Linked DNA regions of Homo sapiens: region 1 is linked to region 2. The links come from fine-mapping of genetic effects on gene expression. A gene starts in region 2. The other region holds a variant in brackets. All regions are shown on one strand. Distances are from middle to middle.

Region 1 (8,324 bases), 21 kb before region 2:
TCACAATGCCATAAACAAAGCCAAGAGATATTTGTCACACATCTCTTGGCTTTGTTTATGGCATTGTTTCCATAAACATTGTTTCCATTTTCTATTTAGTCAGAGTTATTAATCTTTTCCTTCATGGCTTCTGGTCTTGCACAGAAAGACTCTTTTCCACCCTGAGATTATAAATGAATTGATATAGGTTTTCCTCTACATCTTTTGTGGTCTCATTGCTCACCTTAAAACTTTGGTCCATCTGGAATTTTATTTTGGAGGTTATTCAGTTTAATCCCCCCAAATGATTAGCCATTTGTTCCCCCTGTCCATTTGCTGAATAATCATTTTTTTCTTACTTTTTTGCAAAATCAGCTTTCTTGTAAACTAAATTCCCATGTTGTTTATGGGAATAAGAGGGTTTACTTCTGGACTGATTGTTCTGTTTCATTGTTACAGCTATCTATTTCATCTCCAGTGTCATACTGTTTTAGTTATGGTAGTTTGTGTTCAAATTTGAGAGGACTGGCTTTTCTTATTGCTTTTTTTTTAGATTGGGTTTTGCTCTGTTACCGAGGCTAGAGTGCAGTGGCGTGGTCACAGCTCACTGCAGCCTCAACCTCCCTAGGCTTAGACCATCCTCCCACTTCAGCCTCCCGAGTAGCTGGGACTGCAGGTGCATGACACCATGTGCAGCTAATTTTTTTTTGTATTTTTTGTTGAGATGGGGTCTTGCCATGTTGCCCAGGCTGCTCTCAAACTCCTGAGCTCAAGCGATCCTCCTGCCTTGGCCTCCCAGAGTGCTGGGATTACAGGCATGAGGCACTGCACCTGGCCCTGCTCTTCTTTTTCAGAATTTTCCTAGCTATCTTCGCATGTTTATTTTTACAAATAAACTTTACTATCATTTTGTGAAGTTACAAAAGTATCCAGTTAGCACTGGAATTGAGGTTATCTTGAATTTATAGATTAATTTAGAGAGTAATGATATCTTCATAATATTGAGGCTTCTCTCCAGAGAGCACCATTTACTTAAATCTTTTTTATGTCCCTTAGTAGAGAGTTTCTCCATGTAAGCCTTTTTAAGTTTACATCTAGGTATTTTATCTTGTTGGCTGCTATTATACAGAATCTTTATTTCTAACAAGCTCCCCTGGCGATTATTATGTGCATTGAGAACCAATGATATAGGGCAGGGATACTGATTCACTTGGTCTGGAATGGGGCCTGGGCATGGGCATTTAAAGCACCAGAAAGCTCTCTGGGTGATTCAAATGTGCAAGCGAGTTTGAAAAGTCTGACTTATGGAATTCCTAAGGAAGACTCCAGATAAATTCATGCCTGCACACTAAATGCCCTTCTCCTTTGATCTTCCTCCCCACTTTCCTCCCATGCAGCCCAAAGTCACTGACATGCTGCCCACACCTCCAGCCCATCCTGGTGGCAGTTTACCTTGGTCTTTGCTTCTACCACGAGAGCCACATCTTCGAGACGGATCCCAAATTCTCCATCCTTATAGTAACCAGGTTCTGGGAGACACAGAGATGCTGGTGGCATTAAGCTGGGAGAGGGCCCAAGCCCAGGCTTCCTGTACCTACTGATGAGTGGCTGGAGGGACTGGCTGTCTGGCTGTCCCCTGGCTGTTGACTCTGGCAGCCCCACAACTGGTTAGATGTTTGTTGGCTAAGCAGAGGCAACTCATCCCTGTCAGGCCTCAGATCCCCCACAGGGGCATCTCTGACTCACTCTCTCTTCCCTGTAGCCCAGCAGGGAAGCCCTAAAAACCCACTTGGGTCCTGAAGGTACTCCCATCTCCCTGGATGCCACTGTCCTGTTACTCCAGCATTTGGCAACTCCAGAGTCTGAATATACAGCTGGGTCTACGGCCATACCACCCTGAACGCACCTGATCTCGTCTGAATATACAGCTGGGAAACAACTCCCAAGAGCAAAAAGAGGGTCTGGGCTGAGGGGAGCTGGAATTAGGGTGGGACAAGCCATTTGGGGCTGGGCGTAGCGGTGGGAATGGGGAGGTGAGTCCCGAGCTGTACTAGTGCCTGCTGTGCTCCTCTGAAGTCTGGTACACTCTAGACTGCAGTCCTGGGCTAGTCCTGCTCTGGGATGGGGTGGTGAGGTAGAGGGGCCTGAGGGCCATACCAATGGAAGTGAACATGCCCTTGGCCATAGCGATGTTGTTGGACTGGAATCCCACTGGCCCTAGAAAGGAAGACATAAACATGGTATCAGTTCTCCTATACTCACCAGCTTGGAAGTGAGCAGCTTCCGAGGAAGAGCAGATAAGTGAGGATCCCAGAGCATCTCTATGAGCACAGGTCCATCACATCATTGTCTGCCTGGGCCTGGCACACACCAGATTGGCTCTGGCTTTTATTATTTATTTAGGTATTGAGAGGGGTCTTGCTGTGTTGCCCAGGCTGGAGTGCAGTGGCGCCATCATGGCTCACTGCAGCCTTGACCTCCTGGGATCCTCCCACCTCAGCCTCCCGAGTAGCCAGGACTACAGGCACATGCCACCATACCTGGATACTTAAAACATTTCTTTTGTAGAGACGGGGTCTTGCTGTGTTTCCCAGGCTGATCTCAAACTCCTGGCCTCAAGTGATCCTCCCACCTTGGCCTCCCAAAGCAGTGGGACTATGGGTGTGAGTCACCACATGCAGCTGGCTCTGGCTTTTATTTCTCTGGGGTCTATATAAGTTAGTCACTAGGGCTTGACCCTCTTTCTGGTGCCCTCTTGAATGCCAAGCAGCCAGCAGGACTGGCCTGCTGCTGGCATTCCTCACTTACCCTGTGGAGCTGGGTAACCTTGGGTAGATCATGGCATCTTTGTGGGTCTTTGTCATTTCCATACCTGTGAAATTCTCTACCTTCATAGAGGGTATAATAAAAGGGGGGTGGCCTGGGGAGTGCTGAGGAGACACCTACACTCATGCACACACAGGAAGTTGCCAATGCCGTGGCCTGTCCCATGACCATAATTGAGACCAGCATCCCACAAGGCTCTGCGGGCAAAGGCCTCCACCATTCGCCCTGGAAGGGAAGAGAGATTGACCCCAGTCAGATGGCTTTACCGAAGACTGTCCACCTTGCCCCTTCTTGCTTCACTATCAGAGTGGTGCCTAAGAAGAGGGGCCCCTGAGAGGCCGCTAAGCATGCACTGATGCAATGATGTTGGGTTGGGATGGAGGAGGGCTGATGGATGGAGTTAGTGGTTCCCTCGCCAGACCAGCCCATCACTATCTCCAGCTTACCATACATTGTATCCATTACCTGAATTGATGCCTCTACTGTAATTTCTCCCCATCTGTCAGGGCTTTGCACTTTGACACCTAATTCCTCTAAGAATCCTCCCATAATTGCTGTGGCCCACTGATCTCTCCCACCTCTGAGCAACAGTGTTAGATTAAGAGGCAGGAAACTCAGGTTCAAGGCCTGGATCTCCCGCTAACCTTCTGTGTGACCTTGGGCAAGTCACTTTCTCTCTCTAGGCTGGATTTTCTCATCTACATAAGGGATGGGATGATGACAAAATCCTTGCCCCACCAGCCTCCCAGGGTGATGGTCTGAGTCCTGTGAAATCAGGGCCTGAGGCTGTGTCCAGACTGGTTTCTGAAACCCACCTGATGTAGCAGCGGGAAAGATGAGCCTGGACAGGTCAATATTTCCTATCAGCACACGGGTGTATGCCTCCTGATGGGGAGAGGAAGAGGTGATATGGAGGACGGGAGGAGGAGCCAGAGGAGTATCCAGCTGCTTGGCCTATGGATACACGGTGCAGGGCCCAGGCCTGGGTGTGTGTAGGCAGGGTGGGGGGAGTCTCATCGTTATGTGTGGCTGCCCGGGTTCTGGAAGATGGCCAGCAGAGGCTGAGGAGGGCCTTCCCAAAGCTGGGGCTCCATCACGTGCTTCCCTCTGGCTGGTCTATGAGGATCATTACAATATCTGCAGGAGACACTTGGTGGCGGTGAACCGAGGCTGTGACTCCCTGGGCTGAATCCTGACTTAGCCACTCACTCTGAGACCTTGGGCAGGCGACTTTAACTGCTGTGTGCCTCAGTTTCCTTATCTGCGATGGGAAGATAACAGGACCTAGCTCCTAAGGTTGTTGGGAGAGGCAGGCAGACTAATGTACAGAAGGTGCTGCCAACAGCGTGCATGCTTCACGGAAGTTTAGCACACTCATTCCTGTGGTTGTGACGGCTGCTGAGTTTTCTTAAGGCCTTTCATGAGGGTTGAGGTTTGCTGACTTGGCAGCTTAGCCTTCCTCTGTCAGCGGAGGGAGGTGGCCTGACAGTGGCCTCTTCTGGTCACTTCCAGAGGCGATGTGGTCAATCTCCATCACCACACAGGTTCACAGGCTTGTCACTTTGGGCAGGACAGCCAGAGGCAGCAGACTCCGCCGCTAAACTGTGAGCTCCTGGAGACCTGGACAGCATTTTGTTCCCCTCTCTGTGTTTCCAGCACAATGTCTGCCCCATAGTCGGCCTGCTGCATGCAGCATGACGGCAGCTCGCTGCTCCACCCCCAGGGCCCTCTGGTGCACAGAGACAATGCCCTCGCCTCTGCCCCAGCTGGCCAGCCCTCG[A/C]TGTTTCCTGAACACCTCTGGCTCCTTTCCACCGCGGAGGCTTCACTTGTGCCGTTTTCCTCCACTTGGGATGCCTTTCTTTCTCCTTTCTGCTGAGTACAGGGCCAGGCACACAGGCAACAACAAAAAAATATTTGTGCACTGATTTACCAGAATAGGATGAGGCTCAGCTTGGGCTGAGGCCTTGTCAGTGGCCTGAAATATCCCCGGGGAAGCAGCAGGGAGCACTGGGTTTTCCGGCACCAGTGGTGTCACCTTGGGCAAACTACTTAACCTCTCTGAGCTTCAGTTTTAGCCTCTGAAATGGAAGGGATCTTGACTGCTTGGGTGCCCCCTTGGGGGAAGGTGGTGAGGGGAAATCTGGGCCCATGCTTACCTTCTGGAAGGCAGAGGGGGTGCCCCAGTGGACTGTTCTGGTGATGTCTGTGGTCCCGTCCCTATGGAGAAGGAAAACCAACATGCCAAATGCCTGGGGCTAGGGACTGGGGCCATGTGCTTTCTGTGTGCTTTCCACAAGTGGCAGGGCTGGGATGGGATGGGTGGACGGCGAAAGGAAGAAGACAGCTACCATAATCAAAATCCCCTCTTCAGCACCTATGTGTGAAAGGCCTCTGCAAACCTATCAAGTTAAAAGTTACTAAGTTGTCTGACAAGTGTGACTCCCCACCCTACACACTCCTCCCCCATCCCACTCATTTTGGCTGTTCTGTAGGTCTGGGTTTCCTTGGGTCCAGCTGGTTATGAAAGCAAGGCTTCTTCCAGGCTTCCTGGGAGGCAGAAAGGGGAATGTCCCCTTTTTACAGCTGGGGAAACTGAGGTCCAGAGAGATTATATTATCATAACACTCTCATATTCAGATAGTTGTCGACCATTTATAGGACACTTTTGCTGCTCCCTGGGAAGAATGGTAGAAGAGGCCTCATTATCCCCAGTTCACAGATGAGGCCATTGAGGCCATGCGGCTGTTTCCCTCTCTGAACCTCAGTGAAGCCAGGCCTAGAGCAAGCACTGCCTCTCCACACAGTCCTCTCCATGGCAAACACGGATCTGACCCAGTGACTTGCTGAGTTCCAGTTAGGTGAAGCCTCAGTCCCAAGGTCTGACTCCCAACTCCCAGCTGCAGCAGTTGCCACAGATGGCCCCTGTGATCATGCCTTGGTGAGGGAGAGGGGAGAAATGGTCCCAGGGCCCTGGGGCTTCTCCTTGGGTCATGGGGTGTGGTGACCTTCTTCTTCAGAAGGAAAGAAGAGGAAGTGAGGTGACTATTTCCCCGGCCTCACCCTACTCTGAGCACACCCCATTCCAGCAACGCCCCCACAAATTCACTTCCCCTTTGCTCATTGGCCATCTCAAGTACACACAGCATCGAACTCCTGACCAGCAAAGGCTGCTAAGCTGAGCGCCTGCTACTCTGGATCCCCTAGAGCTGTGCTAAGAACAAGCAAAGAGCCTCTGTCGTTAGCACATTCGCCATTTCCACAGGACTCCTTGCTCCTCCATCAGTTCAGTACGGCCCTTCTTTTGTCCCACCCCACGCTTCCCACACTTCCTTCCTCAATGAGAAGGGAAAATCTTTCAGGTCAGCTCAGCTCAGCTCAACTCTGGTGTGAATGATCAGTCACACGTTTGGAAGGAATGGGGTTAGCCTATTCTTTTTCTTTCTTTCTTTCTTTCTTTCTTTCTTTCTTTCTTTCTTTCTTTCTTTCTTTCTTTCTTTCTTTCTCTCTCTCTCTCTCTCTCTCTTTCTCTCTCTCCCTCTTTCTTTCTTTCTTTCTTTCTTTCTTTCTTTCTTTCTTTCTTTCTTTCTTTCTTTCTTTCTTCCTTTTATAGTCTTGCTCTTATTGCTCAGACTGGAGTGCAGTGTCACGATCTCGGCTCACTGCAACCTCCGCCTCCCGGGTTCAAGCGATTCTCCTGCCTCAGTTTCCCTTGGGAAGCATGCTCCACCACACCCGGAAAATTTTTGTATTTTTAGTAGAGATGGGGTTTCACCATGTTGCCCAGGCTGGTCTCAAGCTCCTGACCTCAGGTGATCTGCCCGCCTCGGCCTCCCAAAGTGCTGGGATTACAGGTGTGAGCCACCACGCCTGGCCAGGTTAGTCTATTCTGCACGGCTGTCATGTCTGAGCATTCAGGTTGTACACTGTACAAAGGTAGCCCATCAAAAGGGTTGCTTCTCTCATCTGCCCCCACCTCCACCCTGAACAGTGCCATGGGGAAGAGGGGGCTGAGGAGTCTGCATGACGTTGGTGGTGCGGGGGTGTCCAGGGTGTGCACTAGTGGATGAGAGTAGGGTATATGTGTTTGTGTGGCCAGGCAGGGACATTGAGTATAGTTGCTCAGACTGTGTAATAATACGTGGACTTAGAAAACATTTTACTTGAGGCTGGGCATGGTGGCTCATGTCTGTAATCCCAGCACTTTGGGAGGCTGGGGCAGGTGGATCACCTGAGGTCAGGAGTTTGAGAACAGCCTGGCCAACATGGTGAAACTCCATCTCTACTAATACATACATATATATATATGTGTGTGTGTGTGTGTGTATGTGTGTGTATATATATGTGTGTGTATATATATATGTGTGTGTGTGTGTATATATATATATATATATATATATATAGCTGGGCATGGTGGTGGACACCTGTAATCCAAGCTACTTGGGAGGCTGAGGCAGGAGAATCACTTGAACCCGGGATGCAGAGGTTGCAGTGAGCCAAGATCGCGCCACTGCACTCCAAACCTGGGCGACAGAGTGAGACTCTGTCAAGAAACAAACAAACAAACAACCCACAAAAAACAGCAACTTAAGCAAAGGGAGTCTTTTCCTAATTCCCACAGAGGTGCTGCCTGGGTCCTGCCACTATTCCAGCCTCTGTGTATTTCCCACTGTGCAGGGACCCCCATGTGTGAAAATGGGTAGGATGTTCGGGGCTCATTCCAGATCTCTCCTTTTTCAGACGAAGAATCCGTGGCCCAGGAAGGGAAAGCTTTGGCTGACTCTTGGCAGGCTCAGGAGGTCTGAGCAGAGACATCCAGGCTAGGGTGAGGTCGGGGTACATACCAGTACTGCCCCCCAGAGTCCAGCAGGTACATCTCATCTGAGGACAGCTTGCGGTTCAGCTCCTTGGTCGGGCTGAGAAGGGGAGAGAATGTTGAGAAGGGCAGCCTAACCCTGCACTGGGTCACGTGGGAGGCCTTGGTGGGAGGACCTCTGGGGCCTGGGCTTCCAGGCCAGTCCCTCTGGAGGAAGTCATTCTATCCCAAAGGGCCCTGGAAGAGAACTCAGCTTCCGTTGCTGCTGTCCTCAGCACACGTCTGTTAATCCTGCACCTGGCTGAGCCAGGCCCTGGTCCCCAGGGAGGAGAGAGAGGGTAAAGCCCAGAATATGAGAGCTGGGAGAGCCCTAGAGACCCCCCAGCTCAGCTGTCTCCTTTTCCATAAGGAGAAGCAGGCCTATGGAGGCCAAGGGGCTTGCACGAGGATGCGCGGTAAAGCGGCAAAGAGCTGGGCCTCTACCCAGATGCTCCCTCCGGCCCTTTGTCTCTAACTTCCTGCTGCCTCCGAGAGCAGAGGGCCCTGAGAAGAAGCAGAGCACAGGAAGGGAGGATACCTCCAGGGTGGGGCTGCTGAGCAAGAGGTGGTAAAGCCGAGGAGCACCCACCCTGCCACTCTAGCCCGAGTGGGTAGGAGGGGCTGGGGCAAGGCAGCCGAAGGCGTGGGAGACACCAGGGGACACCAG
Region 2 (8,324 bases):
TATGGGTGTGGGTGAGAACTGCAGGGGTCTGAGCTCTGGCATTGGGCCAGGCCATGCAGACAGTCCTTCTTTGGCTACCTGGGGGTAGGGTTGCCAGATTAGCAAATAAAAATACAGGACACTCACCTAGTTATGTTTGCATTTCAAATAAACAATGTGTAATGTTTTAATGTAAGTATTATATTAAAACATGCACAATTTGGGGCATACTTGCACTAAATTCTTATTTGTTATCTAAAATTCAAATGTAACTGGGTGTCCTGTATTTTATCTGGCAACCTTCCCTTGGCAGGGCTTTTTCAGGTTGCCACCCACTGGTCCCAAATGGCAGAGGAGAGTGAATGAATGCCCCCAGCAGTTTGAGATATTGCCCAGAAAGACCCTTTCCAGACCAGTTCTCTATTTCTTTACAGGTCATTTTAGCTTTAAAACGAAAAGCATGTTTCCGTTTGTGCTGTTTTGCTTTCTACTCCACGATATATCCATGTTTGTTTTAATATAAAAGTAATGTGGTTTGCCCACCCACCTGCCTGCCCCAGGGGTCCCATAAAGTTGATATTGCTAGCAGATGTACTGCGTTTTTCCCATGGCTTACAGTGCTGCTGGCATGCCTACCCCTTAGCCCTACTCTGATTGTAGAAAGAATCACTCTGGTCTCCAGCTAGGAAGCTGACTACCCAAGCCCCTTCTGCTGGGCCTTTTCCTCGTCTGCACACCCTAGGCCTCCCTCTCTTGCCCTTCCGTTGGCTCTTCTTTGGTTTTGGTTTTGTTTTGTTTTGTTTTTGAGACAGAGTCTTGCTCTGTCGCCCAGACTGGAGTGCAGTGGCACAATCTTGGCTCACTGCAACCTCTGCTTCCTGGGTTCAAGCAATTCTTCTGCCTTAGCCTCCTGAGTAGCGGGGATTACAGGCACCCGCCACCATGCCTGGCTAATTTTTTTATTTTTAGTAGAGACGGGGTTTCACCATGTTGCCCAGGCTGGTCTCGAACTCCTGACCTCAGGTGATCCACCTGGCTCGGTCTCCCAAAGTGCTGGGATTACAGGCGTCAGCCACCGTGCTCGGCCTCCGTTGGCTCTTCTAACCTCTGTCTTCCTCCCTCTTCCCTTCTGTGCTTCTCTTTTTGCTGTCACTCTAGAATTTGTCTTTTCTTTCCTCTGCCTGGCCTCAGCCAAAGGCCAGTTAGGGGCCTCCTGCCCTCCTCCCTCCTCCTAGAGGGGTTTCCCAGGCCCAGATCAGGACGGAAGCAGATAACCTGCTGGGGGAATGAATGGGAGGGAGGGGAGGGCACTGATGTGGAGGGGAGGGAGTGGAGGGGGGAGGGGCCCAAGAGTCCGGAAATCAGGAGAAAGCCTGGTAGGAGGAGGGGCTACCAACTGACCCAATGAGGGATAGAGAAGATGATAGAGCAGGGCGGGGGTGCTGCGGTGCAGGGGTGCGTGGGGCAGGGGTGGGGGGGTGCGTGGGGCCAGGGGGGCCGTGCGCGGGGGGCAGGGGGCACTCACAGGGGGGTTGGTGGAACAGTTTCTCACATCCTGCCCTCCAAGGTCCACTGGCTTTGTGTGGCCCCAGGCACAAGCTAGAAGCCGGGAGAAAAATCCAGGGTCATTTGGGGACCAGCTAGTTCCTAGAGAGGGAAGGAGTATCCTCTCAGCCCGCCCCACGGGGCCTCCATCCTTTGAAACGCACGAAGCTGGCCAGCTCTACTTGAGGATAAAAATAATCACATTTCATAGGAAATCAGGCTGAACTGGATAGCACCCTGGGTCACAATCAAAGAAATCTGTTTCATAGACAAGTGATTGCCACTTTTGGATGGGTTTTAGTGCTCATTAAATCAATTTTTCTTCTAATCTAATTGGGTCTTTTCAGGGTTTAGTGAAGTAGAAAAGTTGTGTGTAAATTAAATTTTTGTTATCAAATTTTCTTTGAAATGCTCTAGAAGATCACGCTAAATAATCACCCCACCTTCATTTTAGCCTTTTATAAATCTAATTGTATGATACATTGGGTTGACTTCAATTCAAGGCCTGCTTGCACTGTTTCTTACAGTCCAAATCTTTGCCTATCATTCCAGGCTCATTTTCAATATATTAGACAGAAATCCTAGTCTGCCATGGTGGGGAAAGATGGATTAATTAGTATTTAAAGACACCCTATTATGTGCCAGATACTGAACGCAGCAATTCATCTACAGTATCTCATTTGATATTTGTGACATCACTATGAGGTGGAAATTATTGTTCACTTTCTGCAGAGGAGGAAGTCAAGGCCCAGATAGATTTGGTAACTTGTCTAACTTGTGCCACCAGGAGTCAGTGGTAGAACAGGGATTTGAACCCAGGCCATCTTAATACAAAAGAGGTGAGCGCACTTTCAGTCCTCCCACTCTGCCAAGTATGAGAGGTGGGCCTGAAAAAGGTGATGCCACAGAAGGGACAGAATATATGGAGATCTAGTTTCTAGTTTGGGCTCTGCCCCCAATTTAGAGTGACTCGAGAGTGACCCCCCCCCAATATTCATTGAGCAACCATCTCCTAAGCGCCTACTGTGTGCCAGGCACTGGACTAAGTTCTCCAGGCTCTGGACCTCTGGAAAGGAGGGGCTTGAATTAGACAAAGCGGTCTCTGATAGTCCTTGCCTCTAACCCCCCTGTCTTTTAGGGAGGGATTTCCCTAGATGGTAATGGGGCCCTGAGTGTGGGGAGACATTACACTCCCCCGCCCCCCCTCCTTTTTTTTTTTTTTGAGACAGAGTCTCTCTGTCACCCAGGCTGGAGTGCAGTGGGGCGATCTCAGCTCACTGCAACCTCCGCCTCCCGGGTTCAAGCGATTCTCCTGCCTCAGCCTCCCAAGTAGCTGGGACTACAGGCATGCACCCACCACACCCAGCTAATTTTTGTATTTTTAGTAGAGATGGGGGTTTCACTATATTGGCCAGGCTGGTCTCGAACTCCTGACCTCAGGTGATCCACCCGCCCCGGCCTCCCAAAGTGTTGGGATCACAGGCGTGAGCCACTGCGCCCAACGCCCCCCGCGCCCGCATTTTTTTTTTTTTTGAGATGGAGTCTCCTTCTTTTGCCCAGGCTGGAGTGCAGTGGCACAATCTTGGCTCACTGCAATCTCTGCCTCCTGAGTTCAAGCGATTCTCCTGCCTCAGCCCCCCCTGAGGAACTGGGATTACAAGCGTGCGCCACCATGCCTGGCTAATTTTTGTAATTTTAATAGAGACAGTGTTTCACCATGTTGGCCAGGCTGGTCTCGAACTCCTGACCTCAAGTGATCCGCCTGCCATGGCCTCCCAAAGAGCTGGGATTACAGGCATGAGCCACCACGCCCAGCCACACTTTCGAGTGGGCTGAGCTACAGATGCAAGGAGGGTGGCTGGGGTTCAACACCATGAACGTCCTGTGTGATTTTATCTTGGTCTCATAAACTCAAGGATCAGATGCGACCCATACTGTTCATTTAAGAAAACAAACACCCATTTCTGTAGAAACAGATCCCTGGCAAAATGTTGGCACTGATATGCTAACATAAGAATGAGGACACAGCCAACTTATGTCTCTCTGGACACCAGAATATGCTGTTCTCTGAGGCCAGGGCTGTGGCTCCCAAGAGCAGGCTCTGCAGCTGAATGACTCTGTGGTCCCTGGCACAAGGCCTGGCACTGGGTAGGTGCTCAGGAACTGGACATTGAGTGACTGATCAGGCCCTGCTGACAGACAACAAAGAAAGGAAGGCTAGGGTGGGAGCGCTGGGCTGGGCACCTAGTTGAGGACAGAGAGGGTGCCGCAGGAATGACAAAGAGGAAAGACTCTCTTCCTGACCAAAGTTTAGTTAGGCTCCCCCAAAGCCTCTTCTCCACTTGGCCTTGACCTTGGCCTTCTGTGTCTGTCCTGCCCTTGCCAGGCTTGCATCACCCAGTCTTAGCAAGAATCTTGCTAAGTCAGTTTAGACACCCTTGATATCTGATCACTCTGGCCTGCCGTCAGCAAGAATGCTGTTCAGTCGGTTTAGCAAGAATCCCCCTACCCTTGCTATCTCCTCTTAATACTTTTCCATCCACTGACCCCCTCACTCTGCTCCTTGGCTACAGATCCCTGGAAGTCTTTTCTGTAATCAGAGTTGAGCCCCATTTCTCTCCTCTATTGCAATGCGGTAGTCTTAAATTAAGTTTTCCTTACCGTTTTAACGAGTGTCAGAATATTTTTTTTCTATAACGGGGGGAATGGAAAGGTGCCAAACCAGACTCGATCCAAGTTATGAGGGCCCCCAACACTGGCCCTGAGGTGTCTCTTCCTCAAGTCAGAGAGAGGAAGCAACAGAAAAAGAGACTCGGGCCCCAACCCTCACTCCAACCCTTTCTGAGCTCAGAGGGGAGAGGTCAGAGCTGCCTTCCAGTGGAAGCTAGGATGCACATACCACAGAGGAGGACCAGCCAGGGGCAGCAGCCCCAGTGAGCCCGGGCCATAGGGTCTCCAGATGCCGGCGCTGGGTGGATGGAGGGACAAGGGAGAGAGGGAGGGCTCTTTCCCCGGCCTCTTCCTTCAGGCCTTTCCTGGGCTCGAGCAGACAGAGGGTGGGGGCTGGCGTCAAGAAGGAGGCGTCTGGCTGCTGGGTGGAGAGTGCTTCTCTGGTCTTTTGTTTTGGAGGGCTCTGGGAGCCAGGGTGGGCAGAGGAGCTTTGGGCTGCCCGAGGCGGACTGTGCAAGTTCCTAGTCGTGTAGGATAGGGTGTGAGGCTATCCTGGGCAGAGTCCAAAGATCTCAGAGACAGAGGCACAACAGCTGGTCTCAATCAGCCTGCTTTTCCCAGCCCCCTCTCAGCGGCAGAGCCCCAGCCATTCCTTAATTCGGTCCCCTTCCCTCCAGCAAGCTGATTCCCATTAGCTCCCACACTCTGGGCTCTGGCTCCAGCACTGCTTTTGCTGTGGGGATGGAGATTTGCCTCCTGCTGCTGCTCCTTTTCCTCCCCACCTCTTCTTCCTCCTCGTTTTCCTTCTCCTCCTCCTTTTTCCTCCTTCCCCTCCTTTTCTGGGCTCCTCCACTTCCTCTTCTTCTTCCTCCTTTTCCCTCCTCATCCTCCTCCTTTTTTTTTTTTTCCTCCTTGTCCATTTCCTCCTCCTCCTCCTTTTTGCTCTTCCTCCCCCTCCTTTTTTCCTCCCTCTCTTCCTCCAAGCTGACTGGAAAAGCCAGTGTCCTCTCTTCTTGTAGTGCTTGGCAAGTCCCACTGTACCCCTTGGGAAAGTTGGTTGTGACTGGAGAGTTACTTTCTTGAGCTGGGATGAGTCCCCCCAGGAGTGCCCACTCTGAAGAAGTGATGCCAGCTCTTCCCTTGGGATCTGGGGAGTCCCATTCCCCTGCATTTTCTGAACCTGCACTCTGGGGAACCGAGGCTGTTAGAGCCACTCACACCTGGGAGGAAATGAAAGCCCAAAGATGCCCCTATCTGGAGGGTTTGGGGGATGCCACTGAATAGGGAAGAAGACACAGAAAGGGGAGTTTGGGCGCTCTGAGAAGACTAATTTGGTGAACTGGAAATGCTGTTTCTGCTGTAGCTTCTAGAACAGGGATTTGGTTACCCTGAAGTGTGAGTCACTCGTAAACAACACAACTCCCAATGAGGGAAATGGAGAAGCTGAGGCCTGCCTTGTCTTCACGCCCAGCTGAATCAGAGGGCAGCTTCAAGGCAGCTCCTAGTAAATGCTCTACAGAACCCTTGCTCTTTGGGTTCGAGGAAGGTGATTTCCCAGAGAGGAATGCTTTAGAGAGACAAACAGACCCAATGGGGATGGATGCTCACCTAGCCTGGAGGGCCCCAGAGGCAAACTGCCCATTCCTTTTGTTTCTATTTTTATTTTTGAAACAGGGTCTTATTCTGTTGCCCAGGGTGGAGTGCAGTGGCATGTTCTCGGTTCACTGCAACCTCAGCCTCCCGGGCTCAAGTGATTCTCCAGCCTCAGCCTTCTGAGTAGCTGAGACCACAGGTGCGTGTCACCATGCCTGGCCACCATTCCTTTTGTTTCTATTTTTAATGGATTTACAGTCTGCTTATGTCCACATCAAGTGTAAAGCAACTTTCAACCATCCATTCAAGAATGACAAAATAGGCCATTTTGAAGAGGGAAAACGGACCTTCATGGGAGTCTCTGAAGGGGCAGAGTCAAAATGAGTGAGGTGGCCCAGTGAACTTCATTCTCAGGAATAAAAGCAGAGGGCAGGAGCCCACAGCCTCAGAGGACAGACCAGGGACAAGGAGAACATGAGAATGCTGTCATTCAATAACTGCTGAAGCTCCCGCAGCCTTTTCCCCAGGCTCCTCTCTCCCACCCCTTCCAGGACTGGTAATGAAATTATTCCCAGAGACCAGAGCACTGGAAAATGCCCCCTCAAAGACTCCTGCCTCCTCTGTTTGCTGCAGTAGCCATCCTGAAGGGCAAGCAAGCAGGTAGAGCTGATGGGATTTTGCAGGGGAAGACCCCTGAAGATAGCCTTTGAGGACAAACATGGTCCTGTCTTTCTGTCAGTGAACTGAGCCTTGAAACACTGACTTGGGAGCCAATCAGCCTGAGTTTCAATCCCAGCTCTGGCACCCACTAGCTGTGTGATCTTGGGCAAGTGACTTTATCTCCCTGAGTCCCCAGTGTCCTCACCTGTGAGTTGGCATAATAATAGTACTAGCTTCTTAGGGTTGTTATGAGGATTCAATGGGCTAATGTTGGTGATGCTCTCAGAACATGCCTCGCAGAGACAAGAGTAAATGTTCTACAAATGTTTGTTAATTCACATACTAGAACTAAATAAAGCCAGTCTCATCTGTACTTTGTTCTTTCTCTCCCTGGCATCCAGCACTGCTGAAATAGCAGTTGTTAGAGCAAAGATCAGCTGAGCTGAAGGGCCAACCCCCGAAGCAAACAAACTAAACGGGGATTCCACCCCCATCTTCCGGACTCTGCCCAGGGATGGTCCCCACATAATACTCAGCCCTCTGGTTTCATACCTCTGGGTCCCAGCCTTAGCCCTGGTGGCAAAGATAACTTCACTTGCCTTCATCAGCTCCTTCCTTATCTCCCTATCTCGAAACCACTGTCTTTACTCTTATCAGTTGAGAGACTTCAACCCAAGTTGGCAACAGGCTTGAAGTGGAAAGAAATGATTCAACGTGGGGAGGGTTGAATGGCCGAGTCTTTGCATCAAAGTTGTTTGGAAGATGCATGCATCACTGGAGTCTCGCTCTGGCCTACTCAGGCAGTGGACTTCTGCTTGTTTTACTTTTTGGTCCAAAGCTAGCCTAAAGGCCAAATTCTGAAATCAGAGGTGATCTTCTCTAGAGTACCTCCTGTCTGTGCCTCTTATTTTGCACCCTCATGCCACCCCAGGCTTCCAACCTGAGCCTGCCCTCTCTGGGCACCAATGCCTCCTTGACTTCCATCAGAATACACCTTCCTGACTTACATGTTCTCCCACCAGGTGACAACCACTAGGTGTCCTGAATCGCAGCTGAGGTCACAATAACAACTAATGTCATGAGTGTGAATGAGAAAATGCATATAAAGTGACGAGCAAGCAAGGAACTCTAGCACCAGGGATACAAACAGCTTTGCTGTGGGAGCCCCGGGGAAGGGTAGAACCTGGAGGAAGGCCAGGAATCAGAGAGGTGGAGTGAATCTTGGCAGTAGAGGTGCAGAGATGGCATTGCAGGAGGTGGTCACAGGGAAGGACAGCAGTCTAGGGGCAGACTGGCGGCAATAATGTGAAAAGCAGCCTGAGGAAGCACAGGTGGACAGCGCCATGGACTGGAATAGCCGGTGGCAATAGGAAAGTCAGAGACCCAAGGGGGCTATGAGCACTGCAGAGCATCCCCTGGGGATGTCCCAAGTTACTGAGGATGAAATCATGAAATGATACCTGAGGTTCTGCAGTTCTGCAGGTGGGAAGGAGGCTTTTGAGCTAGCACATGCCCAATCTAACTCTTCATGTGACCTCACAGGCTGAGGGACTGGGGACTCTTGGCCTTGTGGGCACAGCATGTGATTGCTGCTTCCGAATTCCCGTTATACCCTCCCATCAGGTTCCAGCATCTCATGCTGGGAGATAGGCAGGGCTCTCAGAAGCAGAAGAGAAGACAGGCTTGGAGAAAAAAAGTGGCTTTGCCCAGGTCCAAGCTGACCTGTGGCAGAGCTGGGACTCAAACCTGGGTCTGGGGAACTTAAAAGCCCATGCTCTGTCCCTTGGACCTCACAGTCACCCCAATCTGAAGATCCTCCATGGCTCCCACTGCCCTCAGGGCAGAATTCAATCTCTTCAGCTTAGTGGCCAAGGTCT

Which allele goes with the higher level. Alleles are on the strand shown, and positions count from the first base shown. SD is a standard deviation of normalised expression in the study named.
In carriers of allele A in region 1, the expression in fibroblasts of the gene that starts at base 4,707 in region 2 tends to be lower than with C alone (small effect, 0.08 SD a copy in GTEx).

The links. PIP is the estimated chance that this variant, and not a neighbour inherited with it, causes the effect. A credible set is the group of variants that fine-mapping cannot tell apart.
Region 1: its variant is the best candidate, but not a certain one, in a credible set for the expression of XPNPEP2 in fibroblasts (GTEx, PIP 0.74).

The regions. Positions count from the first base shown.
Region 1 is chrX:129,755,878-129,764,201 of GRCh38, reverse strand. It overlaps XPNPEP2 (X-prolyl aminopeptidase 2), which reads right to left. Exons shown (of 21, transcript NM_003399.6): 14 at 7,647-7,718; 15 at 4,962-5,022; 16 at 3,621-3,690; 17 at 2,926-3,030; 18 at 2,137-2,196; 19 at 1,432-1,508. Among named protein-coding and RNA genes, the nearest start is that of SASH3, 20 kb to the left of the region's middle. RefSeq lists enhancers at 4,075-4,154, 4,175-4,224, 7,818-8,317. The variant A/C (reference allele first, on the strand shown) is at 4,586.
Region 2 is chrX:129,735,362-129,743,685 of GRCh38, reverse strand. It overlaps XPNPEP2 (X-prolyl aminopeptidase 2), which reads right to left and starts at 4,707. Exons shown (of 21, transcript NM_003399.6): 1 at 4,424-4,707; 2 at 1,505-1,578. The coding sequence starts at 4,472. RefSeq lists an enhancer at 5,428-5,477.